Linked DNA regions of Homo sapiens: region 1 is linked to region 2. The links come from fine-mapping of genetic effects on plasma protein levels. Region 2 holds a variant in brackets. A gene starts in the other region. All regions are shown on their forward strands.

Region 1 (16,048 bases), not on the chromosome of region 2:
ATGAGACACCAAGTATCATTTAATCCACTACAGATCTTTCCAAAATGTTGAAAAGGTTTTTTCCCCCTACTTTGCAGCTGCTCTTTTTTTCAGATGCTGACATGACCTGCCCCGACCTGCCTGGAGGAAAAGGCTGCCTTGGTCTGGGAAGTTTTGTTTCTACTGCAAATGTATCTCTGTGTCTCACTATTTCTCCTCATTTCTGTGCTTCACCTTAGGAATCTTCCCTTTTTTAAATCAATCCAAATGCTATGGGTAGAATTGTGTCTCCCTCCCCCTCAAAAAGCATATGTTGGAGTCCTAACTTCCAAGCACCTCAGAATGTGACTTTATTTGGAGTCTTTACAGAGGTAACGAAGTTAAAATGAGGTTGTTAGAGTGGGCTCTAATCCACAATGACTGATGTCCTTCTAAGAAGAGATTTGGAGACAGGCTCATCCACAAAGAAAGAACACTGTGTGAATGTACAGACAGCCATCTACAAGCCAAGGAGAGAGGTGCACAGAAGATCCTTCCTTCACAGCTCTCAGGAGGAACCAACCCTACTGCCCTCTTGATTTTGGACTTCTGGTCACCAGAACTGAGATGGTAAATATCTGCTGTTTAAGCCTCCCGTTCTGTGGTATTTTGTTAAGGCAGCCCTAGCAAATGAAGACCCCATGGAACTTTTGTTTAGCCTGTGCTGCTGTCCCAGGACAGAGGTGGCCTCACAGGGGGCTCTGCTCAGTCATTAGACACCTAGGGACCCCCCGCATCCCAGCAGCCCACCCAAGGCTTCCTTGATTCTCCCACCAGGCTCCAAGCTCCCAAGGGGATTAACGGCATTCATTTATTTTTTTTTAGTTACATAATTAGGTTCTTCTTAAGAAATTTAGAACACCAATTTGTGAGGATAAATTCCATTCACCAGGGCACACACAGATTGCAGGTAGCCCTGGAGCTGAGGAATAGCTTTGAGTTTTGGTAAAATTTGCCAGTCCATGGTTTTCTGATCAGCCTTGCACTGCTTTGTAGTCTTACATTTCTCTTTTTCTGTCAAAGATCTCACCCTCCTACTGACTAGGCTTCCACAACTGCTTCTTAAAGTAGGCATTGGTAAGATGTTTTGGGTTTCTCACACTGCTGGTATCGATTTTTTTTTTTTTTTTGAGACAGTCTTGCTCTGATGCCCAGGCTGGAGTGCAATGACGCCATCTCAGCTCACTGCAACCTCCAGCTCCCAGGTTCAAGTGATTCTCATGCCTCAGCCTCTCAAGTAGCTGGGATTACAGGTGTGTGCCACCATACCCGGCTAATTTTTGTATTTTTAATGGAGACGGAGGTTTCGCCATGTTGGCCAGGTTGGTCTCGAACTCCTGGCCTCAAGTGATCCACCCACCTTGACCTCCCAGAGTGCTGGGATTATAGGTGTGAGCCACTGCACCCAGTCCTGATATCAATTTTTATGGAGGTGGTGATGACAAATTTCTGGTGTGTCCTTCACAGAGGAACTCCATGGAAGACCAGAGGTCCAGCCACAAGTAACAAGCTACTGCCCAGCTGCTCCAGGAAAACCACCCTCCTGCCTTGGTGGCACCAAGGGAGGATGAGCAGAATGGTCTCGAGGGCCGTGCTGGCTCCAAGTTTTCTCACATGCTGACTGCAGAGTTTCTTGCGATGGCTGGACAGCTTTTGAGGCACATCTCTGTTGGATAATATCAAGGCATTTTGTGAAGTTTAAATAGCCAGGCATCACCATTCTTGTCACCTCAACTGGGTTTGTAACGGTTGCGAGATTCTTTTCAATCTTGGGTTTAGCAGCTAAGTACCTCCTCTCGTACATGGCCTTTCTGGAATACATAGCAGATCAGGAATATCTGCCAATTCCTCCAATGAGGACAGGATTTTGGGCTTCCCCTTCTTGGGCTTTTTAGCTCTGAGGTTCCCCTTTTCACCTTGCCACTGGCAAAGCCTTGTTAGCTTCAGGTTTCTTCTCCTTAGTATCCGGCTTCTCAACTTTTTCACCCACCATCTTGCAAGATGGGAAGGTGATGTTTAGACGCTCTTGTCATTTACCCATTTATTTGAGTAAGGACAAGGAGTTTCTACGTCCCAGATCTCCAGATTTACAAGTCAACACATAAGCATTGATTTTTGTCCCCCGTGAAAAAAGCTAAGTGATAGACAAATCTTAGAGTCAGTCATCTCTTATTTATTTATTTTTTAAAAAGCATGAAGGGCTTTGAATTAAAATAATTCACCTAGCACTAAGGCTGAGCCATGAAGCTTCAAAGAACAAAGAAGTTGCAGAAGGAGAGAGCTACAGAATTTGTTTTCAAATATCCTAAGGTAGTGTGGGCAGGAAGGGATGTGACTGGAATTCATAACACCACCAGGACCAAACAGTGCCAAATATCCTGTGAGCCATTTATTTTTCCTCCTCACTGTATATTGCTAAGAGCGGCATAAATTATAAGGCAAGGCCAGATAGATATAAAGATCAGATGAAAATCTCGCCCAAACCATTTTTCATCGATTAATGTTCAGATCTGCCACGCCCATCTTTTTGGTCTGGCTCACAGATCTCTGGCACCAATTGCATCACTCAAGGTTTAGAGAACCGCAGAAGCATCTGACCAATTTGCACTTTTGACAAATTAAGGACCCAATTAAAGTGGCCATTAATAAGCTAGAAACAAGCAGACAGGTATAAATCTGGGCTTCTGCCTCACACTTCAAACAGATTACTCCACATGGGGAGGGAATGGGCAGCTGGATGATTTGTTTTTAGAGCAGAGAGGAAGACAGGGAAGAAGGAAGGAAAGGAGGGAGGGAGGGATGAACATACATACATAAACATAAGCCCAGCTTTCTGTCACTAAACTCTGTAATATAGATATGCCAATCTTTCAGTATATGAAAATCTGGATTTACACACATGCAAAATTAGAGGTGATGATTTGTTCTACCAATAGGTTCATGATAGGGAAGATGGGCTCACGGGAGGCTAAATGGTCCCCTGGAGAACTTAAAATGGTTTAGATTGATATAATCAATTATAATACACATTACTAGCATAATTATTCTTTTTTTAAAAAATGTTTGTCTCACTTTTTCTTTTTTTAAAAATTTTACTTTAAGTTCTGGGATACATGTGCAGAACATGCAGGTTTGTTATATAGGTATAGACGTGCCATGGTGGTTTGCTGCACCCATCAACCCGTCATTTAGGTTTTAGCCCCACATGCATTAGGGATTTGTCCTAATACTCTCCCTCCGCTTGCCTCCCACCCCAGGACAGGCCCCGATGTGTGATGTTCCCCTGTGTCATGTGTTCTCATTGTTAACTCCCCCTTATGAGTGAGAACATGCAGAGTTTGGTTTTCTGTTCCTGTGTTAGTTTGCTGAGAATGATGGTTCCCAGCTTCATCCATGTCCCTGAAAAGGACATGAAATCATTCTTTTTTATGGCTGCATAGTATTCCATGGTGTATATGTGCCACATTTTCTTAATCCAGTCTATCATTGATGGGCATTTTGGTTGGCTCCAAGTCTTTGCTATTGTAAATAGTGCTGCAATAAACACACGTGTACATGTGTCTTTATAGTAGAATGATTTATAATCCTTTGGGTATATACCCAGTAATGGGATTACTAGCATAATTATTCTTATTAAAGAAAAGAATAACAAGTTCCAAGAAATATTTGAGAGAGGTGTCATGTTGTTCCTGGTTGGCGTTTGTTCCCCCAGTGCTCCCCAAGACAGAGCAAGGGAAGGATCAGCTGGGGAGAAGAGGCCTCTCCTCCAAGTCTCCCAAAACATCCCAGCATTGAATGGAAGGGGGGCCAGAGCAGTCACAGGAAAGGGAGCCACTGACCTAGGGACAACAGTGACTGTCCCACCAGGGCACTTGCCTGATGTTGTAACCCATTTATACCTGAGGTTGCAATTTTTTGAATTTTTGCAATCAGACCTTGACGATGACCTTGTGCAGAAGGATATAAATAACTCCCACATGCTTAGTGTTCCAATAATGGAACACTAGGCATAAATGGGTTTTAAGCAGGTAGCCAGGAAGAATTTCAGCATTGACTTCCCTCACGTGTGCAGCTATATACCCGCAAAAACCCTAGAAGGTGGCAGGGGGAGACCCTTTCTCCCCCAGATCTAGCAGAACAATATCACAAGCATCTTCCCTGGACTAAAGAGGAGGACTGGAATCACTATTTCTCATAAAGGGTGGCTTGACTTTTTTTTGACAAAGTGTTTCTTTATGTATTACACAACATTTCTTTATGTAATATAAAGTTTACGGATGAGCATTTTGTCAAGATAATAAAGCAACACATCCTGGCCTTAGAAATTCAGTAGGAAGTAAATCTAAATTAGGTTCCATCCCATAGGATTTAGACACTGAAGGATCGAAAGAAAGAAAGAAAAGAGAAGAGAAGAGAAAGAAAAATACTCTAATACCAGTTCATTTGCAAAGTGACCCAAGGCAGGAATTTTAATGCCAAGAATGTGCAGTCATGCTTAAGTATGGCAGGTTCACTTTCCAATTTCTGTAATTAAATCGTAACTGACAACTGGGATGGGTAGGAGAGGAAGGGAAAATAAATTTAATTCTGCTTAATAAAAGGTGCCAGACCACGATGAAATCTCATTCATGAATTGTTTTTTTTTTTAATCATTGGAATTGTTTTAAAAAATAGCAAATGCTCAACAAATGCAAGCTAAGTTAAACACTTTGGACAACTTACTTGAACAACACAATCATATAATGTGGGTCCTGTTGTTATCCCACAGAGCAGGAAACTGATGCTTAGAGCGCTTGAGGAAGTGGTGTGAATGCAGGGGCCAAGCACCAAGCCACTCTGCTAGATGGCCTCTTGGTGAGGAAGAGAACTCATCTTTAGCTTAGATGTTAAGGGAACAAATCTACCATTTCCATTCTCCTCATCCGTCACTTAAGAACAAGTCCTAATATTTTTAAGTAATAAGTATATGGTCAAAAATGAATAACTCAGAAATATCATGAATGAGAGAATTCCATGTCAGTCTTACAGAATATTTGAAGAGAAATTTTCTTTGTACCACATACACAAAAATCAAGCATAGCTTAGCTTGTTACGTATTGCTTAAGTGAAAAAAAAAAATCAACTTTAGTGTAGTTAATACCTCAGCCACTAGGGGAATATCTGCTTTTATTAAGTTAATATTTCTTGTACCTAAGTAAACATTCCTTCTTCTTCCTGTCTGTTCTTACAAGTAACAAATAAGTAGATAGGTATTCCCTTAAAATTCCGTGTGTCTTTCTTTGGATAATCAACGAGCAGTTACAGAACAACTAGCCCCATTCTAAATCTGATACCAGAGATTTCTGAATCAATGCAATTTTATGTCAAATCTATACATCTCTACCCATGTGAACCAGCTTCTGTTCAAGCACTGTTTGTCGGCCTCCAGAGCAAGGAGCATGACAATGCCCAGCTTTCCTCCTCAGAGCTGTTGCTGTTAATGTGGAAGAAAAATGAGGGACACATCCTTCTAGACATTTTTTTTGACAATGGAACGAGAAGTAGAGTTTCTGCCAGGATATATTTTGCACATCATCCAGATTTTTTTTTTTTTTTTTTTTGAGACAGGTTCTCACTCTGTCACCCAGGCTGGAATGCAGTGGCACAATCATGACTCACTGCAGCCTCAACCTCCTGGGCTTAAGGAATCCTCTCACCTCAGCCTCCCAAGTCGCTAGGACTATAGGTAAGTGCCATCATGCCTGGCTAATTTTTAATTTTCTTGTACAGTCTGGATCTCCCTATGTTCAGACCTTCCAGGCTGGTCTTGAACTCCAGCACAAGCGGTTCTCCCTCCTCAGCTTCTCAAAGTACTGGAATTACAGGAATGACCCACCACACCCAGCCATATTTTGCCTTTTGTATGAGAAAGGAGGAGGTACCGGAAATGTAACCTTCACCTTGAACAGTGATGACTTTTTTCAGGGGTCATCTGGGTGAGTTTCAAAGGATGCCCCACCTGCACCTCACCCAAAGACTTATATGGGAACCATGAGAGGGGCTTTAAAATGCTATATATATAGCAAAACCAATAGTTTTATTATTCTCATATTTTTGAATCCTACTTCCTGAACATAGAATTAGTTCCTCTCTTGCATAATGGTAGATGCTATTTTTATGGCATCACTGATTTTTTTCTTATTTTTCTAAAGAATGAAACAAAAATTTCTCAATTCATCCTGAGTCACCTACTTGAACTTTCTCATGGAACAGAGCGCTAACATTCACTGGATGTGTACCATGCACCAAGCAACATAGTAAGCTCTTTACCTACTTATCTAATTTACTTCTCACAACTACCTAGTTAGGCAAGTCTCTAGTGGCAGCTCTCTGTTCTGTGCCCACAGGTTGGAAAATGATGAAACTGGCCTAACCCATTTGGCCAACCCTGAAGACTCATATGGCCCCGTAACTCACTAGAAACCCTCTCTCAGTAAAGGACTCGCTTTGTTTCCTGGTGAGAGCTGAATAGCATTCATCTTCCTTTCATCTAAACATGTGTTTTTTCTTCTTCTTTCAAATAATGCCTCATTTGCTATTTAAGCTTTTGAAGAAAAATAAAGACAAGAAAATATTAGAGAAGGCACTGTCCTTCCAATCTGCTGCTTGGCATCCCCTACCACAGAGGGCATCTGTCCCTATAAAGTCACCTGTCATAAAAGACCAAGACAGAGGCAAATATCGGACCATTGAAGATACCAATAAGCTGTGTGTGGCTTAACATAAAAATAACCACACATTAGCAGGTGGTAACTCCACCACCAAGGCCAAAAGCAGCCCAGGAAGCTGATTAACACGCACATCAGCCTCTTCTCTCACTTGTGAAGGCAGGTCTGTCTGTCTTCAATTCTTATTCTAGTACTTTTACAAAAAGACTTTTCTTCTTCTCTGCATGTTCCCTCCCTTGCTGTGTCCTAGACAATTCTAAGAATCCCAAATTGAATCTCATTCTCTGAGAAGTAGATAGAATGACATGCTTTTTGAGAATGTGATTCCAACCCCAATTTCTAGAATACAAGAGCCCTAGAGCATCTTAAGACCAGGGACTTTTATATACTCATCACAAAGAATGGATGTGATACTTGTTTAAACATCAGAGAACTCAATTTCCCCTTTAATTCCACTGCCAAGCTTGATTTCACTGCAGCCACTTCATCAAATGAATTTATAAAATATGGACCAATGAAAAGAAACTACAAAAAAAAATTGTGCTCCATAAGCAAAACTTGTCATGCCAGCAACAAATTTCCCTTCTCCGCATCTGCATAGCCCACCTCAAGGAACAAATTTGTCAAGCAACTTTTTAAGTGCCCTCCCCCTCCATCTACTTTGTCCTTCTGGAATAAATACGTTACTGACACAGTTAAGACATGTCAGCCCTTACCTTTCTGTAAGTCACAAAATGGTGGTTAAAAGTCCTTTTCTTCCATTCAGTGGTCGAGACTCTTGCTACGACTGGAGTATCTCCCCCGGGAACACTCCCTCTTCCCTGCTTTGCCTCCCAGCCTCTCCCTTCAGCTTCAGTCAAACATTAACCATTAACATTTTTTATTGCTCTTCGAGAGCCACTGGGTATCATAAAAAGTGTCATTACTTTTACTCCAGGAAAGAAATGACTTTGTATCAAAAGAAGTTTAACTTACATCTAATCCATCTCAAAACAGGTTGCTACATTTTTCAATGTAGATGAGTCAATGAAAAGACAAGAAGTTAGAGTGGAAAAGTTTTTGTGTATCCAACTATCTCTAGAGTGTGAGGTTCATGACATCAAAGACTTTCCATATTTTGTACCCCCAACACTTAGCACAGGAGACTTGATCAGCAAATATTTATGTAGATTCCATCTCAAACACAAAAGACGGAGCAGGGGCGCCATGTCTGAGCAATGACACAGTTCATTGATAACCAGCCACATGAGATATCATAAATGACTCAGAAGACATGAGGAAAGACACAATATGGCTGTGCCTGCTTTTGAAATCCAAGGGTCCCTTCCAAAGTCTGCAAGAAACAACCGATAGCAAATTTCCCCCAAACACAAACCAAGTCCTTTTTTCCCCCCCACAATTCAGGGAATGGATTTACCTAGGAACAACTTATTTTTCCCCAATCAAAATGAGGTTTTTGATTAACCAATAAAAGCCAATGCCCCCAGATTTCTCAAGTCAAGGCTTCTTTTAGACCAATTCCTGATTTCCACACTTTGGTCACTCTGGGAATCCACACTGAAGGTGAGCATCAATGTCATGTCTGTGTCTGGTGTGTTACACTTGGCCCTGTTTCTGTGGACCTTCTCATGTTCATTTCTTGGCTTCTCCTGAGCTGAGGTTGTGTTTTCCATTCCTCTCCAGGTGTGCATCTGACAGAGGGAAAGCAAGAGAGCCCAGCCCACTCTCTAGAAGGGCTCCCTCCTTTCCAGATTTCATGAGAAGGTTTCATGAGTGCTCTAAGCCACTGTGGGAATAGACCTCATTTATCCTGAGGACCCTGCAAGTGAAACCATCTAGTTGCATGCCAGCTGTTAACATCCTTGGTGGACTGGTGGGTTCAGCAAAGGCCCTTCTTGCTTTGTCCCACAGCCAGCATCACTCATTTAGAAGAATGAGGTTATTGAGGCTAAGCACTTCTCACATTCTTCACACCTCTGCCCTCCCATTAGCTGAATAAAGTGTGCTTGTTCTACAAAATCAAATCGCTTCCACTTGCCACATGTTTCAGTTCCTGGAATCAAGGGCAAGCATCTCATCACACAGCATTGTTCATAAAGAAGTTTGGGTCTTCTTTGAAAATTTTAAAATAATAAAGTGCTTTTAAATTTATGAGTTTTTTTTTTTCAAAAATAAAGTGCATATGTATCATTTATAGTCATTGTTTTTCAGCAACAATAACAATGATCGTGACATGTTGGTATATCAATTAAAATTCTGTTTTCTCATTTAGCATGTCTGCAAAGTAGATTCCAGTTTATAGACAGAAAATGGGGACACAGAGAGGTTTTATTTCTTGTCTAAGTCACACAGCCTTTGACTACAGAATCGGGACTGCAACCCTGTTCTGATTCAAATCCCATCCTATTCACTACAGCTATAGACTCTGCCAGATTTTTTTCCTTCCAGCTTTATGCGAGTAAAAAAAAAAAAAAAAAAAAAAAAAAAAGTCCAAGGGCAGAAATCCCTGCATGAGCCCATTCCTGTTGGAAGATGGCCAAGTTCCGAAATGGGGTTCCTCTGTACATCACTTGCTATCTCTAGCCCCCAGCTTCCAGCTCAAAGAATTAGGTTAATTAAACACTGAAAATGCCTAAACCACCCATCAGAGAAATTAACAGGTGATTATTGCATTTCTGAATTACAGAAGCTATTTCTGTACTGTGGGATACCAGGTTAACAAGATTCTGAGAGCTGTTCATATATTCCTTACATGGTTTAGACATCCTTCCAGATTAAATCCAAATGTTAAGAATGTGCACGTTTCAGGTAGCCACCACTGCATTTTAGGAACTCATTTTCATGAAAAGTGAGACATTGCTGGTTCAATAGACTTGCTAATAATAGGAATAAGGAAAATGTAATTGATAAATATTACTGATTTAATTTTCCAAAGCAAAGGAGGTATGATTTATAGGATGAAAACAACTGAAGGCCAGGCGCAGTGGCTCACACCTGTAATCCCAGCACTTTGGGAGGCTGAGGCAGGCAGATTACCTGAGGTCAGGAGTTTGAGACCAGCCTGTCCAACATGGTGAAACCTCATCTCTACTAAAAATGCAAAAATTAGCCAGGTGTGGTGGCAGGTGCCTGTAATCCCAGCTACTCAGGAGGCTGACTCAGGAGAATCATTTGAACCTGGGAGGTGGAGGTTGCATTGAGCCGAGATTGCACCACTGCACTCCAGCCTAGCCGACAGAGCAAGACTGCATCTCAAAAAAAAAAAAAAAAAAGAAAACAAAACTGAACAAGTGAAAGGACTTGGGCTAATGCTTTCAACTCACAGCTTCATGGTGGTGAAAACATTTCAACGCTTTTGTCTATAATGTTTTAAGCATTCCTCCAATATTATCCCTAGAAAATACAAATGTCCATAAATAAGTAATTAATTTATGGACATTTGTAAGAAAGTCTAGATAGCCTCCCAGACAAAAAAGTTATGAAAACTTGGAATTATTCCTAAAAGTCAAAGCATGTTACATTTCTAATATTTATATTCTTTTTTATTTTATTTTATTTATTTTTTGAGATGGAGTCTTGATGTCCCCAAGGCTGGAGTGCAATGGCACAATCTCAGCTCACTGCAACCTCCGCCTCCCAGTTTCAAGTGATTCTCCTGCCTCAGCCTCCCATGTAGCTGGGATTACAGGTGCCCACCACCACACCCGGCTAATTTTTTATATTTTTAGTAGAGACGGGGTTTAACCATGTTGGCCAGTCTGGTCTTGAGCTCCTGACCTCAGGTGATCTGCCTGCCTTGGCCTCCCAAAGTGCTGGGATTACAGGCATGAGCCACTGCTCCTGGCCTATTTTTATTCTTTAAAACTCAAAATGAAATCTATGAGTGGTAAATTTCTCAATTTTTCAAGTACTTGCATTTTATGTTCTTTATGTGTTACATACTACACATTCAGAATATTTTATCATGAGTCCATCAACACACAACCCTCACCTAACAGAAGTGTAAAATAATATTTTAATTACTTAATATCTGTCTTGCTCTGTTAACTTGATGATGGCAGAAACTTTGTCTTCAATTAGTACTCAATAAGTACTTCTTAGGACTCAACTCCATTCAGTTATTTAATTCAATAATTCTAAATAGTCATGATTACCTGCAGGCTCAACCAAGGCCAATAGGAACCCAGAAAAGCAAATAATTTTGAACCCCCTGAAACCTAGAGTTCACAGTTTTTGTTCCACATTTATTTAGTGGAATGAAGTGAAACTAATTTTCTGCTAGTCATTGTTTTAGGCTGAAGCAGAATCTTTCTTAACTACTTTTGCTGGCCAGGACAGAGTCCATTTTCTGATAAATTTAAGCAAAACAGGTCTTACTTCCATGTAGCTCTTACTTTTTTGGAGACAGGGTCTCGCTCTGTCACAGGCTGACAGGCTGGAGTGCAGTGGTGCGATCTCGGCTCACCGCAGCCTTGGCCCTTCAGGCTCAAGCCATCCTCCCACCTAAGCCTCCCAAGTAGCTGGGACTACAGGCACACACCACCATATCCCATTTTTTTTGTAGAGATGGGGTTTCATCCATCCAGGCTGGACTCCAACTCCTGGGGTCTAAGATCTGCCCACCTCAGCCTCTTAAAATGCTGGGAATACAAGTGTAAGGCACTGCGCCTGGCCTATACTTACTTCTGAGTTTGGGTTTGGGGTTTTTGTTTGGAGGCTTCTCTGTTGTTGAGTTTTTTTTTTTTGGCAGTTTTCCAAACCAGAACACTTGAGAGAATTATCACAAGATTTAAAACTTAGATAACAAAATGAATCACTAGTTCTAAGTAAGAAACACTGAATCATACATAATGCTGTTTAAAAATCTTAGCTGACAGCCACCTTGCGATATTCTGAAAAATATTTAAGGAAGATAGTTTGAGGTTAGTAAAGATTTTCTTCCCCACTATCTACTCTGACAGAAGTGGACCCACTTTGTACTTTGTTTATTCCAGGAAGATTTTTAACTTCATCTATAGATGCTGGCTCCAAGCAACTGCCCAGCAGGCGGGGCCCTCAATCTGGCTCCAGCTACGCATGCCATGAAGTGGCTGGAGAATCTCATGAATGGGATGGCTAGTAAGTATTCACATCATCAGTTGTACATTGGACAAATGCCTTCCAGGTCTTTCCAAACTGAAGTTCACTAAAACTGGGGCTTACACTATGAAATCCTGGTTCAGGGTATGTCCCTGGGTCCCTTGCTCTGTTGCCCAAGCTAGACTGCAGCATGTAATCATGGCTCACTGCAGCCTCGACTTCCTGGGCGTAAGTAATCCTCCTGCCTCAGCCTCCAAAGTAGCTAGGACTACAGGCAAGTGCCACCACACCAGCTAATTTTAAAATTTTTTGTAGAGATAGGTTCTATGTTGCTCAGGCTGCTCTTGAACTCCTGAGCTCAAGTGATTCTCCTGCCTCGGTCTCCCAAAGTGCTGGTATTACAGATGTGAGCCACCATGCCTGGCTGGCACTCTGGATTTCTGATGCAGGTGATTACATAGGCCCTTCTGAGAAACACTAGCTTAAGGAATCATTGCTTTATCCTCCAGTAAATATTCTTCAGCAAAGCCTATTCTGAATTGAGATTAATTACCCCACCATGTAGAACCCATTTCTGCAGGAATGTCTGAGATAATGATGCAGTCGGTCTGATGTTGAACATGCAAGCTGGATCTGGTAGACATGAGCATGCTCATCTTCCCTCAGACATTTTTTTCTCAGACAGCTAAGCTTTTTATTTGATCTTGGATTTTCTTTAAATTCCAAGAAATGACCATCATTCTTATTGGTTTTCTGAGACCTATCTCTGTCTCTTATCAGATTTCACCTAACAAGCTTTTGCTCCCATCCAGCTCATGCTCAGATCACAGTGTCTGGCTTCCATCTTCACTGCTCCACTGAAACCACCCTCACCGAGGTTGCCAACAACCTCCTCATGATAATCAGATGGACGCTTTTCAGTCTGCACCTCACCTGACCTCTCACAACTTTCAACACCATGGCGAGCTCTCCTCAAATTTCCCTTTACCCCGGCTTCCTTGCCAATACTCTGATTTTCCTTCCACCTCTTGAGCTAGTCCCTTGCAGTCCTACTTGTGACTCATCCAACTCCTTGGGCCCAATCCCAGGTTATCCTGTCCTGTCACTCACTCTGTGGAGGTCAACTCTGCTCCCATCTACTTGCCAACATCTCGAGTCTCTCTCTAGACCAGATCTCTCCTCTGGTCAAAGCTCTGGTTTTCTATATCCAACTGACTATTCCACAACTTCGCCAAGGTGTCCCATGTGCACAACAAACTCCACACAGCCATAGTGAACTGTACTGTTTTAATTCTCCAAAACATACGCCTCCTAGAACACTACCCCTTCATGTTAGCCCTGGTGGTCATCACCACTTAGCCAGACAGTGTGCAGTGACTGCCTAGGAAGTACTGTCATGGGGTCAAGTAGGAGACCAGCATGCATGTGAGCTTTGCTTGGAAGGACTCAGACTTGGACACTAAGGCTTATTAAATGGTCCCCCTTCTGTGCCTGTGGGTCTCTCATTAGACACCAAAACAGGATTGCCTCTGGAAATTCTGCCCTTAAGAGAAGTATTTCCTGGGAAAGAATACTCTTTTTAGTAAATTGTGAAATTGATCTTCACATGCAAAACAATGAAACTGGACCCTGACCTCACACCATTCAGAAAAATTAAAATATATCAAAGACATAAATTATAAGGGCTGAAACTATAAAATTCTAAGAAGAAAGCAGGGGTAAATCTTTATGGCCTTGGATTAGGAAATGATGTCTTAGCTATGACACCAAAAGCACAAATAACAATAGAAAAAAAAACAAATTGGACTGGACTTAATCAAAATTAAGAACTTTTGTGATTCAAAAAACACCGTTAAGAAAGTGAAAGACAATTCATAGAAGGAAAGAAAATATTTGTAAGTCGCGTATCTGACAAATGAACTGTATCTAGAAGATATAAACAACTCTTACAGCAACCCAATCAAAAAATAAAGGATCTGAATAGAAATTTTTTAAAAGATATACAAATAGCTAAAAAGCACATGAAAAGATGCTCATCCTTAGGCATAAGCAAAATGCAAATCAAAACCACAATAAGATGGCATTTCATACCCACCAGGGTGTTTCATACCCACCAGGACAGCTATAATAAAAAAGAGATAATACCCAGTGTTGAAGATGATGTGGAGAAATTAGAATCCTCATATGCTTCTGGTGGGAATGTAAAATAACACAACCACTTTGGTAAACAGTCTGGGAGTTTTAACAAAAACTTAAATATAGAGTTACCATTTGACTTAGCAATTTCACTCCTAGGTATATAGCCAAGAGAAATAAAAACATCACACAAAAACTTGTACACAAATATTCATAGCAGCATTATTCATAATAGCCAAGAGATAGAAACAACCCAAATATTCATCAACTGATGGATAAAATGTGGTATCCATATGATAGAATATTTGTCTATCCATATAATAGAATATTCATATAAAAAGATATGAAATACTGATACTACAAGACTAAACCTTGAAAACATTATGCTTAGTGAAAAAAGTCAGACAAAAAAAGCCTAATATTATATAATCCACTCACATGAAATGTCTGGAATAGGCAAGTCCATAGACAGAGAAAGAAGATTTCGGAGTTGCCTGCAGTTGGGGGGCAGAGGGGGAATTTAGAGCTGAGAGCTAAAAGACATGGGGCTGCTTTTGAAAGTGATGAACATTTTCTAAGTTTTATTGTGGTGGTGGTTGCACAACTCTGAGAATACACTAAAAACTACTGAATTGTGCACTTTAAGTTGGTAAGCTGTATGATATGTCAATTATATCTCAATAAAGCTGTTCTTAAAAAAAGTATTCCCTGCAACTAATGCATATTCACTGCAAAATAATGAAATTGAACTGACATAAATATACAAAACATAGGCTAAACATTTTCAGTTACCTCGGTCTAGGCCCTTCAGATCATTTTGTTCTATTATCGGAAATGTCTTACGGTTTCCAAAATCATTTATTTTCCTTTAAGTATACGAGGTTTTTTTTTTTTTTTTAACTAATTTTACCTATTATTTGACCTCTTTTGTTTTTTGTGTTTTTAAAATGTGAATAAGAACATTTCAGTACACAAAGATTATCTTTGCCCTGGATAAAGTAGAAAATGACAATGTGGGCATAATGGCCCCTCAGCCCCTCTGATAGTGTCTCAGCCCAGGCAGTTCAGCCCTAGATAAACTTGACTCAACTGCCTGCCTGAACGAAGACTATTTTCTTTCTACATGACTAAACCTAGTAACTCAGGAGACAAGGAGGCCAAATTCTCCTCCCTTTAGTTTTCCCACTCAGGATTACATTGGGCCTGGTCTCAGGAACAATCCAGGAGTTTCTGGAAAAGCCATGTTATCTTCAAACTAGAATTTTCCAATAGCTACAGGAGGAAACACAGGAAATGAAAGCTCACATCTGCAATCTGTGTAATTCCCTTGCCTTGGGTGGTCCACAGGAGCAGCCCACAGTGCAGTGGAGGAGGAGGGGAGAACAGAAGCCCTGCTTGGGAGAGACCATCTGGCTCTATCAATGAGCCTCAGCCAGCGTCAGATCCCTTCTAAGGAGGCCTGGGAGGAGGCCGGCGGAGGACCCTCACTTCCTTGCTGGAGTCTCACTTAGCCCACATGCTCCTGCTTTAAACCTGATTAGATAGACCAGCTTCTCAAAAAGGGAGGGCTCCAGAGGGTTTGTTTTTTTTTTTTTTTTAATTCTCAGATCTTCCCAAGTCTGCTCTCCTAAGTATGAGAAACAAAGGGAATTGCCTAGAACCAGGACTATATCTAAAGGGATTTACAGGACAGAGGTAGCTGTACTTCTTCTAAGTTACCACTTTATACTAAAGAAAATCAATGGTAGTTAACTACACAATACTTGACTAGAAGTTATCCAAACTCCACTCCTCTTCTTTATCTCTAAAGAGAGGTTTTTCTCAGTACAAATAAGTTTTTAGTACAGGGGTTCTCAACGCTGGCCGCATAGAGCCACTGGGATTGTGATTTGACTGGTCTTTGGTGAAGCCTGGCAGCAGTCATTCTTAAAGTTTCCCTTGGTTCCAACGTGCAGCCGAGGTTGAGAACTGCTGGCTTGGTGTCTACCCTCTACCAAGCAATTTTGCTCTGCATCTCAATCTTCACAGCAACACGGGAAGGTATTTTTACTACTTTACAAATAAATAAATACAGGAGCAAAGAAGATACAAATCGATTCTCTCAGATT
Region 2 (16,048 bases):
TAGCCTCTGCCTCCCAAAGTGCTGAGATTTCAGGCATGAGCCACTATACCTGGTCTTTTTTTTTGACTTTTTTTTTTTTTTTTTTTTTTGAGGTGGAGTCGCACTCTGTCGCCCAGGCTGGAGTGCAGTGGGGCCATCTCAGCTCACTGCAACCTCTGCTTCCCGGGTTCAAGTGATTCTCCTGACTCAGCCTTCCGGGTAGCCAGGATTACAGGTGTGTGCCACCATGCCCGACTAATTTTTTTGTGTTTTTAGTAGAGACGGGGGCCAGGCTGGTCTCAAACTCCTGACCTCGAGTGATCTGCCAGCGTCAGCCTCCCAAAGTGCTGGGATTATGGGTGTCAGCCACCATGCCCGACCTTTCTTGACTTTTTAACAAAAGCCCTGATAAATGTAGTTATACCCTGACTTTGCCTCACTATAGGCCCCTGTGCCCACAAACTTCCTATGGTCACTTTCCTAATATCTAAGTGTAAAATTGAGATTAATATCCTCACCACCCTGCAGAATTCCCACACTGACTTCCTAACCTATAGAATAAGAAATGTTAGGATGAGACCAGTGGATGGCTCTTGTCAAAATAGTAAACCAAAAGCAATTCTGCACTGCTGCATTTAATCACAGTGATTTTTTTTTTTTAAAACAGTGTCTCACTATGTTGCCCAGGCTGGTCTTGAACTCCTGGGCTCAAGTGATCCTCCCGTCTCCCAAAGTGTTAGGATTACAAGTGTGAGCCACTGTGCCCAGCTGAAAGATTCGTCTTGACATAACAAAGAATCGCCCTCCAAAACCTATTAATGATTGGCCGGGTATGGTGGCTCACACCTGTAATCCCAGCACTTTTGGAGGCCGAGGTGGGCAGATCACCAGGTCAGGAGATCGAGACCATCCTGGACAACATGGTGAAACCCCATCTCTACTAAAAATACCAAAATTAGCTGGGTGTGGTGGCATGTACCTGTAATCCCAGCTACTTGGGAGGCTGAGGAAGGAGAATCACTTGAATCTGGGAGGCAGAGGTTGCAGTGAGGTGAGATTGTGCCACTGCACTGCAGGCTGGTGACAGAGCGAGACTCCGTTTCAAAATAAACAAATAAACATATAAAAAAAACCTATTAATGACCTTAGCTTTATAGATGTACTTAGTGCCATGGTCTGAATGTTTGTGGCTCCCCGAAATCCATATATGTTGCCATCTTAACCCCCAAGGTGATGATATCAGGAGGTGGGGCCTTTAGGAGGTGTTTTAGTCTGTTCTCACATTGTTATAAAGAAATAACTGACACTTCGGGAGTCCGAGGTGGGTGAATCACTTGAGGCCAGAAGTTCGAGACCAGCCTGGCAAACATGGTGAAACCCCTCTCTACTAAAAAATGCAAAAATTAGCTGGCAGTGGTGACACACACCTGTAATCCCAGCTACTCGGGAGGCTGAGGCAGGAGAATCACTTGAACCCGGGAGGTGGAGGTTGCAGTGAGCCAAGATCGCACCACTGCACTCCAGCCTGGATGACAGAGCAAGACTCTGTCTCAAAAAAAAAAAAAAAAAAAAAGAAGGAACTGAGACTGGGTCATATATATGTTTAATTGGCTTAGGGTTCTGCAGGCCATGCAGGAAGCATGGCTGGGGAGGCCTCAGGGAGCTTTTACTCATGGCAGAAGGCAAAGCCTGAGCAGGTGTCTTCACACAGCCAGAGCAGGAGGAAGAGAGAGAGTGGGGAGGTGCCACACACTTTTAAACAACCAGAGCTCATGAAAACTCTACCACAAGAATAGCACCAAGGGGATGGTGTTAAACCATTTATGAAGGATTCACCTCCATGATCCAATCACCTCTCACCAGGCCCCACCTCCAGCACTGGGGATTACATTTTAACATGAGATTTGGGTGGGGACACAGACCCAAACCATATCAGGAGGTGATTAGGCCATGGTGGTGGAGCCCTCATGAATGGGATTAGTGCCCTTATGAAAGAGACCCAGAGGCCAGATAAGGTCATACCCATAATCCCAGCACTTCGGGAGGCTGAGGTAGGTGGATCACTTGAGGTCAGGAGTTCGAGACCAGCCTGGCCAACATGGTGAAATACATCTCTACTAAAAGTACAAAAACTAGCAGGGCATGGTGGCACATGACTGTAGTCCCAGCTACTTGGGAGGCTGAGGCAGGAGAATCATTGATCCTGGGAGGAAGAGGTCGCAGTGAGCCCCAAGCCTGCCTGGGTGACACAGTGAGACTCTGTCTCAGGAAAAAAAAAAAAAAAAAAAAAAAAAGGAGACCTAGAAAGACCCTTGCCCTTCTACCATGTGAAGACACAGAAAGAAGGAACTGTCTATAAGCCAGAAAGCAGGATCTCACTAGACACAAAATCTGCCTTGATCTTGGACTTCCCAGCCTCTAGAACTATGAGAATAAATGTCTGTTGTTTATAAACTACCCAGTTTACAGTATTTTGTTGCAGCAGCCTGAACAGACTAAGATACTTTGCTGATTTTTTTTTTCTTTTTTGTAGCTGTCCTTTAATAGGTTGAGGAAGTTCCTTCTATTTACTAGTTTTCGGAGAGCTTTTATCAGTAATGGACGTCAGATTTTGTCAAATGCTTTTCCTGCATCTATGGAAATGATCATGTGGTTTCTCATCTTTAGACTGTTGACATAAGAAATTACATTGATTCATTTTCAAATGTTTAACCAGCTTTGTATCCCTGGGATTAACCCCACTTGGTCATGATGCATTATTTTTATGTATTGCTATGTTTTATTTCATAATATTTCCTTGAGGATTTTTGTGTCTATATTCATTAGGGCTATCGGTCTAGTTTTCTTGTAATGTATTTGTCTTGGTTTGGTATCAGAATAATGCTGGGCTCATAAACAAAGTTGGGAAGTGTTCCATTTTCTGAAAGAGTTTGTGTACAGTTGGTATGATTTCTTCCTTAAGTGTTTGCTGGAATTCAATAGTAAAGCAATTCAGTCATATTAGCAAGCTTAGATCTTTCTATAGGAAAGACCGTGGTATGATTTTTTTTATTATACTTTAAATTCTAGGATACATGTGCACAACATGAAGGTTTGTTACATAGGTATACATGTGCCATGCTGGTTTGCTGCACCCATCAACTCGTCATTTACATTAGGTATTTCTCCTAATGCCATCCCTCCCCCAGCCCGCCAGCCCCCAACAAAGTCCAGTGTGCGATGTTCCTGCCCTGTGACCAAGTGTTCTCATTGTTCAATTCCCACCTATGAGTGGGAACATGCAGTGTTTGGCTTTCTGTCCTTGCGATAGTTTGCTAAGAATGATGGTTTCCAGCTTCATCCATGTCCCTGCAAAGGACATGAACTCATCCTTTTTTATGGCTGCATAGTATTCCATGGTATATATGTGCCACATTTTCTTGTCTTTTTATTCATTTTCTTTTTTTGAGATGGAGTCTTGCTCTGTCACCCAGGCTAGAGTGCAGTGGTGCAATCTCGGCTCACTGCCAGCTCTGCCTCCCGGGCTCATGCCATTCTCCTGCCTCAGCCTCCTGAGTAGCTGGGACTACAGGCGCCTGCCATCACGTCTGGCTAATTTTTTGTATTTTTAGTAGAGATGGGGTTTCACCACGTTAGCCAGGATGTTCTTGATCTCCTGACCTTGTGATCCACCCTCTTCAGCTTCCCAAAGTGCTGGGATGACAGGCGTGAGCCACCACATACTTTTAAATAAAACGTACACCTCAATAAATTCACTAAGACCAATCATGCTATAGATATCTGGGCTTGCAATTCAAGAATAATATCATTAAAATAAAAGTTTTAAGCACACACTTTAAGATCACCAATGGTGGAAAACCAGTTTTAACAATAATATATTTATTTTTTATTTTATTTATTTATTTTTTGAGATAGAGTCTTCCTCCGTTTCCCAGGCTGAAGTGCAATGGCACAATCTCAGCTCACTGCAACCTCTGCCTCCTGGGTTCAAGCAATTCTTCTGCCTCAGCCTCCCAAGTAGCTGGGATTACAGGTGTGAGCCACTACACCTAGCTAATTTTTTTTTTGTATTTTTAGTAGAGACCGCGTTTCGCCATGTTGGCCAGGCTGGTCTTGAACTCCTGACTTCAAGTGATCCACTCACCTTGGCCTCCTAAAGTGCTGGGATTACAGGCATGAGTCACTGCACCTGGCCTAAAAATAATGTATTTATTATTATTTTATTTTTTAAAACACAGAGACGGCTGGGTGCAGTGGCTCACTCCTGTAATCCCAGCACTTTGGGAGGCTGAGGCAGTTGGGTCACCTGAGGTCAGGAGTTCAAGACCAGCCAGGCCAACATGGTTTAAAATACAAAAATTAGCAGGTCGTGGTGGCATGGGCCTGTAATCTCAGCTACTCGGGAGGCTGAGGCAGGAGAATTGATGGAACCTGGGAAGCGGAGGCTGCAGTGAGCTGAGATTACACCACTGCACTCCAGCCTGGGCGGCAGAGTGAGACTCCATCTCAAAAAAAAAAAAAAATTAAAAATAAATAAATAAATAAACTGAGAGTAGCAGTTTACGGTCTCCGCTACTCAGCAAATCCATCTTTTGGTTTCATTGTTTTGTCCCAAAGCTTCAATCAGGCTCTTGGTGACTGTTTACTGTCTGGTGTAAGGAGCAGGCCAGTGGCACCCTTGGTATTTATAGGAGGGCGATAGTTGCCTCCAGATCCACTGAATGTGGCAGGCTAGTGTTCACAGAACTTTCAGATGCACCAGACTCTAGGAAGAAGACAAGAGGAGACAGAAGAAATTAAATTAATCAGAGAAAGGCAAGATCCCATTTCCCTGATTTGATATGACTTCGCTGAACCTCCAGAAAAATCCTCAAGCTGACCTGGGCTTCCGTTTACGCAATCCTCGGAAAACAATGACCATATGAGAAATGTTTGCACAAGCTTTGAGTTGTTTTTAAAACCCCATAAATCCATAAATGTTGACATTTATTACTCTTAATGTGAGCATTCTTTCTAAGAGGATATGTTCCATATTTAAATTTATGAGGTTATTTTTCCTCCTTAGAATCAGAAACGATAGCATATTGCAAACAGAAACTGGCAGGCTCTTGCTCTCTCCCTCTCTTCCTTCTCTTCTCAAGCTTGGGTGTTTGCATTCAATCATAAAGGGTGTGATGAATTCTTCAAAACTGCATTAAAGCAGCGGCCATAAATGAAACTGCCAAAAAGAACGTGAAAAATAGTACTGGCTGCTTTCTGAAATGTCCCTGTGTGACCTTAGGTTTCTGGAGATTTTGTGCAAGTGTGAATTAAGCATTTGATTTTATCTTAGGAATAATGATGCTCGCATGAAACAGGCAAGGAAGGACAGAAAGAGAAGGAAAGAGAGAAACTGATTGAAGAAAAATAAACTTCACATGGAACAAACTTCACATGAAAACATGAGATTTTTTCTTTTTTTGGGATGGAGTCTCACTCTGTTGCCCAGGCTGGAGTGCAGTGGCACGATCTGGGCTCACTGCAGCTTCTGCCTCTAGGGTTCAAGGGATTATCCTGCCTTAGCCTACCAAGTAGCTGGGATTACAGGCGTGCACCCCCCATACCTGGCTAATTCTTGTATTTTTAGTAGAGACGGGGGTTTCGCCATATTGACCAGGCTGGTCTTGAACTCCTGACTTCAAGTGATCCACCCATCTCGGCCTCCCAAAGTGCTGGAATTACAGACGTGAGCCACCATGCTTGGCCGAAAACAGAAGTTTGAAAAAATTTATTGAAAAACATTTTGCCTATGATTCCAGTATCATAAACATACTATAGGACTCCAAAACCCAATAAAATTATACTGTGATCCTGAAAGTATCTTAAGAGGCATTTAATATACAATGTCCATGAATATCAGGTTGAACAGTGTGTTTTTAAAATATACATTTGTAAATGCTGTTTGTATATTACATATATTAACCCTTTGTCTGTCATTCAGATTGCAAACAATTCTGCCACTACTTTGTATTGTTTTGATAACTTTCCCCCACAAAATGTTACTTTTTAATGTAGTAGGATATGTGTAATTTTATTTTTACAGCTTTCAGCTTTCTTGTTTTGATTAAAATAGTCTCCTCAGCTCCCAAATTATACATATAGTCTCCTAAATTTTCCTTTGGAATTTTTAGGTGGTTTTTAAATTTTATTTATTTTTATTTTTTGAGACACAGTCTCACTCTGTCGCCCACCTGGGCTGGAGTGCAGTGGCGAGATCTCTTTGTGTGGCACACAAGGCCCCACCAGGGGTCTGATCCTGCTTGATGGGATCTTGATTTGCATAAACCATACCCCTGCTGGGATCCCAGCTGTGGTAGATTGTGTTATTGTTGAAAATATTTGCTTTCTCTCCCTTGGGTAGATCATACCTCCCTGTCTCGCTGATATCACGCTTGATGTCTGACTGGCAGTGCCTCTCTCTGATAGTATTTTATATCCAGGGCGACCTTGTGACTTGCTTTGGCCAATAAAATTTGGGTGGAAGGGACGCACATCGTCTCTGGAAAGAAGCTTCAAGAGCCAGCTGGTGGTTTTGCCATCTGTCACCCTCTACCACCATGAGACTGGCAATGTCCCAGACGGGGGTGGTTTGGCCAGCCCAGGTCCCAGAGTGAACATGGCATGGATGAGAGCACAGACATTGAAATGGGCAAGCGGCATGAGCAAGAAATACACCTTTGCTGTTGTAAGCCATATAGCCTTTAGGACTGTTTGTTACTGCAGCATAACCTGACACTTTCTGACTGCTACACCAAACTCGCTGGCTTTGAGAGACTTTACCCTTTTTTGCTTTTTTTTTTTTTGAGATGGAGTTTTGCTCCGTCTTGTACAGGTTGGAGCACAGTGGCATGATCTTGGCTCAATGCAACCTCTACCTCCTGGGTTCAAGTGATTCTCCTGCCTCAGCCTCCTGAGTAGCTGAGATTACAGGCGCCTGCCACCACGCCTGGCTAATTTTTATATTTTAGTAGAGATAGGGTTCACCATGTTGGTCAGGCTGGTCTCGAACTCCTGACCTCAGGTGATCTACCCACCTCGGCCTCCCAAAGTGCTGGGATTATAGGCGTAAGCCACTTCTCCCAGCCGAGGAACTTTACTCTTAAAGCCAAGTATCAGCTTGTCATCTACCCATCAAGCAAGCTGATTCCCCCTACCCTAGCCACCATGACTTCAGAGACAACTCTTGTGGGTCCCTGGACTCCCATCAGCTGATATTATCGGGACAACTGTAGCTGCAATTCACATAATCACACAGTGGCCAACCTTCCCAACCTCCTCCTGCCTCACTCACTCCTCCTGGGAGAAAGACTGACCTATTCCCCAGCCCTAGTTTCCTTTTTTTTTTTTTTGAGACAGTCTCATTCTGTTGCCCAGGCTGGAGTGCAGTGGCATGATCTTGGCTCACTGCAGCCTCCACCTCCTGGGTTCAAGCGATTCTTGTCCCAGAGCCTCCCTAGTAACTGGGACTACACAGGTGCGTCACCCTGTTCAGCTAATTTTTGTATTTTTAGTAGAGACGGGGTTTCTCTATGTTGGCCAGGCTGGTCTCACACTCCTGACCTCAGGTGATCTGTCCAGCTAGACCTCCCAAAGTACTGGAATTACAGGCGTGAGCTACTGTGTCCAGCCCATAGCCCTAGTTTCAACATGTCCCTCCCTAATCCTTGATATTTGGGGGCTGGTCCCGGCCTGTACGTTTCTGGATTCACGTCTTCCCCCAGGTACCTGTGACAAAAGTGACCTTGGAGGGAGACCAGTGCCCCCCACTGACTTCCTGTGCATTCCATTTCAGTGTCACTAGGAAGGGACCCGATGGCAAGTGTCACTGATGATTGGGCCGACACTGCCATCGTCAGCATAGTCTTCCCACAGCTCTGCTCCTTCCTTCTCCCCAGCAATCCTCTTGCCTGTCTTGAGCTCTGGCTGGAATCTGATTAATTTCTGGAGCCAGCTCCCAGTCTCAGTTGTGTGTGGGCAGCCTACAGTCAGCAGCATCTGACATTACAGCCATGTCTCCCAACCCCAATAGAACACTCTTTTCTCTTCCATCTTCTCCAGCTTCCCCACGAAAGCTGGACCCCAATGTGGGCATGGGGCATTCTCAAACCGCAGACAGAGGATTCCTGCAGTCTTAGCTCATCCATCACCTCCCTGAGTGGGGCGGGGCTCCTACCCAGGCTCTGCAGGGAAAGTGGCCACTTGTCCCCATTCAGAATGCAAAGATGTCACCTTTCCCTCTCCCTTCTGGGCAGGCGTTCAAATGACTGTGCTCCCAGCTAGGAGATAGTAAGTTTGCATCATGGGAGAGATTTCAGTAATGAGCACCATTAATTTCAGGAGTGGGCCAGATGTGGTGGCTCACACCTGTAATCACAGCACTTTGGGAGGCCAAGGTGGGAGGATTACTGGAGGGCAGGAGTTTGAGACCAGCCTGGCCAATATGGTGAAACCCCATCTTTACTAAAAATACACAAAAAAATTAGCCAGGTATGGTGGCACATATGCCTGTAACCCCTGCTACTTGGGAGGTTGAGGCAGGAGACTCTCCTGAACCCATAGGCAGAGGTTGCAGTGAGCCGGGATCACTCCATTGCACTTCAGCCTGGACGACGGAGTGAGACTCCACCTCAAAAAAAACAAAAAACAAAAAAAATTCCAGGACTGGAAAAGGTCACTTCCTGATTGCACATGACTTCCTGGAGGAGGTGAGGAAGGTGTAGAACTGTAAAGGAAAGGTGGGATTTTCACAGGTGAGAGAAAGCGGAGGAGCAGGAGGGCACTGCAGGTGTAGGAATGGCTCAGGCAAGGGCCTGGAGTGGAGCAGAGGCTGAGGTTGGGGGTCTGGTGGCTGGAGCAGAAGGGGGTGTGGGTATTAGAGAGGTGATGGACAGAAGGGGTGGTGGATGGGGGTAGATCTGGGATCCATCTCCCCAGGAGCCTGGTGATCTTTACTTACAACAGGAATCCATTTTCCATTTACGTCTGTGTCTCCAGAACAGTGATGGGAATTTTATGGTGTTTGATACTTAAAAAAAAAAAAAAAAAAGACTGGAAACCCCCGAAACCTCCAGCTTGGTTTGCAGCGTCTTGGCTGGCTGTGGTGCTTGACCATGTGGCTCAGCAGTTTCCACAGAGACTGCTCTGAAAAACAACAACAAAACTTTTTGCAAACGAGTATCTTCATGCTGGGCAACTTGATCAAATGTATTAAGAAATTGAAGTGGAAGACCCCAAGAGTAGCCCTGCTCCCTGTTGGCCCCTCCCCTGAGTTACCCCCAGTGGTGTCATTGTCGGGCTCTGAGCTCCACCTCATTTGGACTCTTTAGCTTTTCATTTCTTTGCTCACTTCCTCAACTTGACCACACACACTGAGGCCAGGGCTATACAATGTGTCCCCTGGATTTTGGTGCAGCCATTTGCACAACCGATGCGCAGGCAGTGTCACTTGGTGGGTATGCACAGCGCCTCTTATTTAGGGTCCCTTCAGTGACTCTCGATAAGGACAAGGTCCCCCAGGAGACATGAGAGGCACAGCCCCTCACGAAGATCTCCCAGCGGGCCTGGCCTCAGAGAGTTCGCTGGCTGCCTTTGCAATCCTGTCCCTTGGGCCTGCTGGGAAGAGGAAGAGCTGCAGTTTCTCTCCGCAAAGCTTCTTCCCTTAGGGATGGTCAGACCTATTTAGATCTATTTTTCTTTTTATCTTTTTTTTTTTTTTGTAGAGATGGGTCTCGCTATATTGCCCAGGGTGGTCTTGAGCTCCTAGCCTCAAGTGATTATCCCGCCTTGATCTCCCAAAGTGTTGGGATTACAGGTGTGAGCTACTGTGCCTGGTCTGACCTAATTTTATTTTATAATTTTTTTTTGAGACGGAGTCTCACTCTGTCACCTAGGCCAGAGTGCAGTGGCGGGATCTTGGCTTACTACAACCCTCACCCCCTGGGTTCAAGCAATTCTCCTGCCTCAGCCTCCTGAGTAGCTGGGATTACAGGAGTGCACTATCATGCCCGGCTAATCTTTGTATTTTTAGTAGAGACGGGGTTTCGCCATGTTGGTCAGGCTTGTCTCAAACTCCTGACATCAAGTGATCCGCCCACCTCGGCCTCCCAAAGTGCTGGGATGACAGATGTGAGCCACTGTGCCTGGCCCTGACCTAATTTTATATTCATAATTTTTTTTTTTTGAGACAGGTTTTTGCTTTGTCACCTAGGCTGGAGTGCAGTGGCTCGATCATGACTCTTTGGAGCCTTGACCTCCTGGGCTCAGGTGATCCTCCCATCTTGGCCTACCAAGTAGCTGAGACCACAGGGGCACACCACTATGCCTGGCTAATTTTTTTTGTGTTTTTTTTTTTTTTTTGGTAGAGATGGGGTCTTGGCATGTTGCCCAGGCTGGCCTGGAACATTTGGGCTCAAGAGATCCTCCTGCCCCGGCCTCCCAAAGTGCTGGAATTACAGGCGTAAGCCACTGAATCTGGCCTGAGCACAGTGTTCTGTAGGGTGACTATTCCATCTTCTTTCTGGGTTGAAACAATCGTTTGGGCTGTTTCCAATTTCCATCAAAATTGCCATAATCGAGAGTCAATAAACATCCTCATGAATGCTGCCTTGAAGGGTTTCTTGGACACAGAGATGGAGGGTGAAATTGCTGGGTCCTAAGGCACTCATTTAAAATTTTAATAGATGCCACCAAATTACCCCTTTAAAGCAACCCAACCCACCTACACACCCACCAGCTGGATAAGAACATTTGTTTTACTTTATCTTGTTTTTGAAATGAAGTGTCGCTCTGTTGCCCAGGCTGGAGTGCAGAGGCACGATCTCAGCTCATTGCAACCTCTGCCTCTGGGGTTCAAGCAATTCTCCTGCCTCAGCCTCCCAAGTAGGTGGGATTACAGGTGCCCACCCCACGCCAGGCTAATTTTTGTATTTTTAGTAGAGATGGGGTTTCACTATGTTGGCCAGTCTAGTCTCGAACCCCTGACCTCAAGTGATCCTCAAATTACTCTTTTAAAACAACCCAACCCACCTACACATCCACCAGCTGGGTAAGAACGTTTATTCTTCACACCTTTGCCCAAACTGGATAGGTCAAACAATGTGCTGGGTCCAAACCAGTTTTTTTTTTTTTTTTTTTTTTTTGAGATGGAGTCTCGCTCTGTTGCTCAGGCTGGAGTGTAGTGGTGTGCTCTTGGCTCACTGCACCCTCCACCTTCTGG[T/G]TTCAAGCGATTTTTCTGCCTCAGCCTATTAGTAGAGATGGGGTTTTGCCATTTTGCCCAGGCTGGTCTCGAACTCGTGACCTCAAGTGATCCACACCCCTCAGCCTTGCAAAGTGCTGGGAATACAGGCGTGAGCCACCGCGCCGGGCCCAGACTAGTATTTTTGAGTGTTTCCTTTGGTCATCCATGTTTCCTTTTCTGGGACCTAGCCCCAACTCTTCAGATAATAAAATGACTTCAGATGGAATTCTGTGTTAATTACTCCCACGGTTTTTTCTGGCCTATGGGGTCCTGCGGGGGACAGGATGGAGCAGGGGCAGACTGAGGGACAGAAGGGGCTTGAAGGAGAGCGAGGTGCCACTGTCTCCCCAGCAGGAGGAATTGAAACTCAGGAGAGGCTGCAGGAGTAGGACCAGACTCCAGAGTCCAAGCCCTCGGTCAAGGGTACCCTCCACGGGTGTCGGGGAGGAAGGGCAGCTTCCAGGCAGTTCCATGTGGGCCAGGCAGGCTGTGGGGCTGAGCCAATAGCAGCTCTTCCTGCCTGACACTTCCTGGACTTGTCCTATCTTTTTCCCCCGTGTCCCGCTTCCCACAGCGCTGACGTCTGTCTGTCCGGGTGCAGGGAGAAGGGAGGAAGAGGGGAGAGGTGGGGCGGTGCAAAGGTGAGGCTGTGCTCAGCCCTGACGCTCAGCAAAACCGATAACCAGCACTTTCATTACGTGCACGCCCCAGGGCCACGTCCCTGCCGCTGTCTTGGTCCTGAAGCCTGTTCTGCCCCAGCCCCCTGCCCGCTGGGCCCATGCAGCTGTTGGGGCTCCTCGGCCTCCTCTGGATGCTCAAGGCCTCCCCGTGGGCCACAGGTAAGGGGGAGAGGCGGAAGGGGGTTGGAGAAAAGCTCCTGATGTGATGTTCCAGGAAAGGGGAGGGAAAAGTGGCTGTAAGGCCTGGGGAGGGGGGATAAGAAGGCACCGCTTGGGGCTCTGGGTGCAGGGAGAACCGAGGCACGGCCTGACTGGGGGAGGGGGCGGTGAGGAGAGGTTTCTTCCAGAGCTCCAGGTGCAGGGAAAACCGAGGTTGGGAAAGAGTGAGGGAGCTGGGTCTCTGCCACTCTCCACCAAGCACTGAGCAGGTTGCAGCGGCTGAGCCCCAATCTGTATCTGCAGCTGGAGGGTAGAGGGTGGGATTTACGTCTTCCCAGAGCAGTGCCCTTCCTGTCTTGACTCCTTCTGTCACCTGCCTCACGCCCCCAGCTTGAGTGTCCCCTTCACACTGGCCTCTCCCTCCCTGACAGCCCTCTAACTTCTACCCCTGGTCTCGGTCCTCTGGTTTCAGCCTCTCTGCCTTTTGTCCCCCGGCGGCTCCTCCCCAGCTCTGCCGTCACTCTCTTACCCCGGCCAGGGCCCATGTGTCTGGGTACAGCTGTTGGTACCAGGGCCGGGGCAGGGAGCTCCTGATGTCCACTTCGCTTCCAAGGGTGCGTCTGAGACTACCCGTCGTGGGGTCCCAGGCTTCTCTCTTCTGCCCTGCAGGAACACCTCGCAATTCCTCTATACTTCTCTTTTCTCTGTACTTCAGTGTCTGCTTCTGATCCCCGATCCCAGGCCACCCAGCCTACAGGCCCATGAGTCCCCTTCTCAGTCACCTCCAGGGCCACATCCTGGAGCCAAGGGCTGTAGCCTGGGGATTCTCATAATCCCTGACCCCACTTCCCTGGCACCCACGAGCTAGGTTGAGACGTGACACCCCAGCTCTCAGCCACAAGATGGGCTGTGCCCGAGGTGAGGGGTAGCAGGTCGGGTACCTCCCACTTCCCATCTGCTGTGGCTGCCTGTCTTCCTTGTCCCTGACACCCCCGACAGCCGGATCTCTGATCCTAACTCTGACAAATTGTGAAATGGGTTGAAATCCACATGCTGGGGTTCATGCTTGTAAACTAATGAATCCCACGGCCAAAAGGGAATAGTATAGAAAAATATGTCTATTTGTGTGATGAACACTCACTGCTAAGCCTTAAGGTCTCCAGAACTCATCACGCCTGACTGCTGAGGTAGCTCCTTCTGGAAGTTTCCTTTTCTATGCTGTCTCTCTGCCTCTTCACCTAGTCCTCACTCCATGCCCTTTGAAGTCATTAGTGTGTGAGCTTAGCCTGTTTCTCTTTGGTGTTCTCTGGGCAGTTTTTTGTTTTTGTTTTTGTTTTTGTTTTTGATGGAGTCTTGCTCTGTCACCCAGGCTGGAGTGCAGTGGCACCATCTCAGCTCACTGCAGCCTCTGCTTCCTGGGTTCAAGCGATTCTCCTGCCTCAGCTACAGGTACACGCCACTACGCCTGGCTAATTTTTGTATTTTGTTTTAGTAGAGAAAGGGTTTCACCATGTTGGTCAGACTGGTCTCGAACTCCTGACCTCAAGTGATCTCCTGCCTTGGCCTTTCAAAGTGCTGGGATTACAGGCATGAGCCACCGTGCCTGGCCCTCTTTGTTCAGCTTTCCCTGTCTCCTGGTTTTTGTGATGCGCCCCCTGCCAGGACATGGCTGGGTTCTCTCTTTTTCTCTTTGAAAGCGGAGTCAGCCCAGACAGCAGCAGGGTGCCGGGAGAAGCAGTGGTGGGAGCAGAAGGTTAATGGGGGGATGGGAGCACTCCAGGCAGTAGCAGGGGGAGGAGAGGAAGGGGCAGAGGGAGGAGGAGCCTGGGTGTGACCAGAGGAGGGAAGGGAGGGGAGGGAGGCTCTGCCCAGCTCGGCTATATCAGGACAGGAGGACCTGCCATGACAAGGCCAAGGCCCGGTGAGGAATGAGGGCTCCCATGCCCCACTGCTCCCCTAGGAGCAGACAGGCAGTCGTCTCCAGCACCACAAAGCACCCAGCTCCAAGCTGCCTCTGATGCAGGAGTCAGCTGTAATATGCCCTGCCCTCTGTGATGCTGCCTGGAAAATGGGTGAGTGAGTAGCTTACATGAGTGATGTAACAAAATGACCCACGGATTTACCAGTGGATTCCTCTGCTCTGCCGCCAATGCAGGAACTTTATCCACGGCCACATCCATCTCTCAAGTGCCTTTCCCCAGAGCAGAAGCAGCCAGCGCTGTGCTCAGCAATTCTCCACACTCCAGAGACCTGGCTGGGTGGCCACTTGGTGTCCCCCAGCTCGCCTCTCCTGCTCCTGGCCACAGGGAAAATGCACCTATGACACTCACTACCTCCCCCCATGACACACTCATCTCTGAAACATTGCTCAACTCTCCAGTCAGTTCCAACACCTCAACCACCCCGACGTCCAAGTTTGCCTTCAAGGTTGAAACCACTCCACCCACCGTGTTGGTCTATTCAGCCACCACTGAGTGCGTGTATCCAACGAGCTTTATAATCACCATCTCCCACCCCACCTCCATCTGTGTGACCACGACGCAGGTGGCCTTCACCAGCTCTTACACCTCGACTCCCGTGACACAGAAGCCAGTGACCACCGTCACCAGTACTTACTCTATGACCACTACTGAGAAAGGAACGTCAGCCATGACATCTTCTCCCTCTACCACCACTGCAAGGGAAACTCCCATAGTGACAGTGACACCCTCCTCTGTGTCAGCCACAGACACAACCTTCCACACTACAATCTCGTCTACAACTAGAACCACAGAAAGGACTCCCCTGCCCACTGGAAGCATCCATACAACCACGTCCCCAACCCCAGTATTTACTACTCTCAAAACAGCAGTGACTTCCACTTCCCCCATCACTTCTTCAATCACTTCCACAAATACAGTGACTTCTATGACAACGACCGCCTCCCAGCCCACAGCCACTAATACATTGTCATCACCCACTAGGACCATTTTATCTTCCACACCTGTCCTGAGCACAGAAACAATCACCAGTGGTATCACAAACACCACCCCCCTATCCACCTTGGTGACCACACTCCCCACTACCATCAGCAGGTCTACACCTACATCTGAGACCACCTACACTACTTCTCCCACCAGCACTGTCACAGACTCCACTACCAAAATCGCCTACTCCACAAGTATGACAGGTACATTGTCCACAGAGACTTCTCTCCCACCCACCTCTTCCTCTCTCCCAACCACAGAAACAGCCACGACTCCTATGACAAACTTGGTAACCACCACCACTGAGATCTCCTCCCACAGTACTCCCAGCTTCTCTTCATCAACCATCTACTCCACAGTCAGCACATCCACAACTGCCATCTCCTCACTTCCCCCTACCTCAGGTACTATGGTGACTTCCACAACCATGACCCCATCTTCTCTGAGTACAGACATCCCTTTCACAACACCAACAACTATCACCCACCATTCTGTGGGCTCTACCGGTTTCCTGACTACAGCAACAGACCTCACATCAACATTCACGGTTTCCAGTTCCTCAGCAATGTCCACGAGTGTCATTCCATCTTCCCCCAGCATTCAGAATACAGAAACCTCATCCCTTGTCAGCATGACCTCTGCCACTACTCCCAATGTGAGACCAACTTTTGTAAGTACACTCAGCACTCCTACAAGTTCCCTCCTGACGACCTTCCCAGCAACATATTCATTTTCATCTTCCATGTCTGCCAGCAGTGCTGGGACCACTCACACAGAGAGTATCTCCTCACCTCCAGCCAGCACCAGTACACTCCACACAACAGCTGAATCCACCCTGGCACCCACTACCACCACCTCATTCACAACTTCCACAACTATGGAACCACCTTCAACCACTGCAGCAACTACAGGAACAGGTCAGACCACCTTCACCAGCTCTACAGCCACATTTCCTGAGACCACCACACCGACTCCTACAACTGACATGT

Which allele goes with the higher level. Positions count from the first base shown, and alleles are read on the strand shown. Strength reflects both the effect of a copy and how common the allele is.
For the plasma level of the protein whose gene starts at base 7,514 in region 1, T is the high allele of the variant in region 2 and G is the other (strong association).

The links. PIP is the chance, under the fine-mapping model, that this variant and not a neighbour inherited with it causes the effect. Protein levels are from antibody-based Olink assays in UK Biobank. Linkage for the fine-mapping came from a reference panel and not from the study's own genotypes, which makes the PIPs less certain.
Region 1: CDH17 starts here. The variant in region 2 is fine-mapped to the plasma level of the CDH17 protein (UK Biobank, PIP above 0.99).

What each region holds. Positions count from the first base shown.
Region 1 is chr8:94,201,042-94,217,089 of GRCh38, forward strand. CDH17 (cadherin 17) reads right to left here and starts at 7,514. Exons shown (of 18, transcript NM_004063.4): 1 at 7,442-7,514. It also overlaps the pseudogene RPL6P23. RefSeq lists an enhancer at 5,041-6,240.
Region 2 is chr7:100,937,593-100,953,640 of GRCh38, forward strand. It overlaps MUC3A (mucin 3A, cell surface associated), which reads left to right and starts at 11,942. Exons shown (of 12, transcript NM_005960.2): 1 at 11,942-12,093; 2 at 14,249-16,048. The coding sequence starts at 12,033. LOC105375431 (a long non-coding RNA gene) reads right to left here. Exons shown (of 3, transcript XR_007060457.1): 2 at 8,975-9,159; 3 at 4,467-4,744. RefSeq lists enhancers at 6,009-6,558, 11,481-12,459, 12,460-13,438, 13,489-14,034. The variant T/G (reference allele first, on the strand shown) is at 11,234.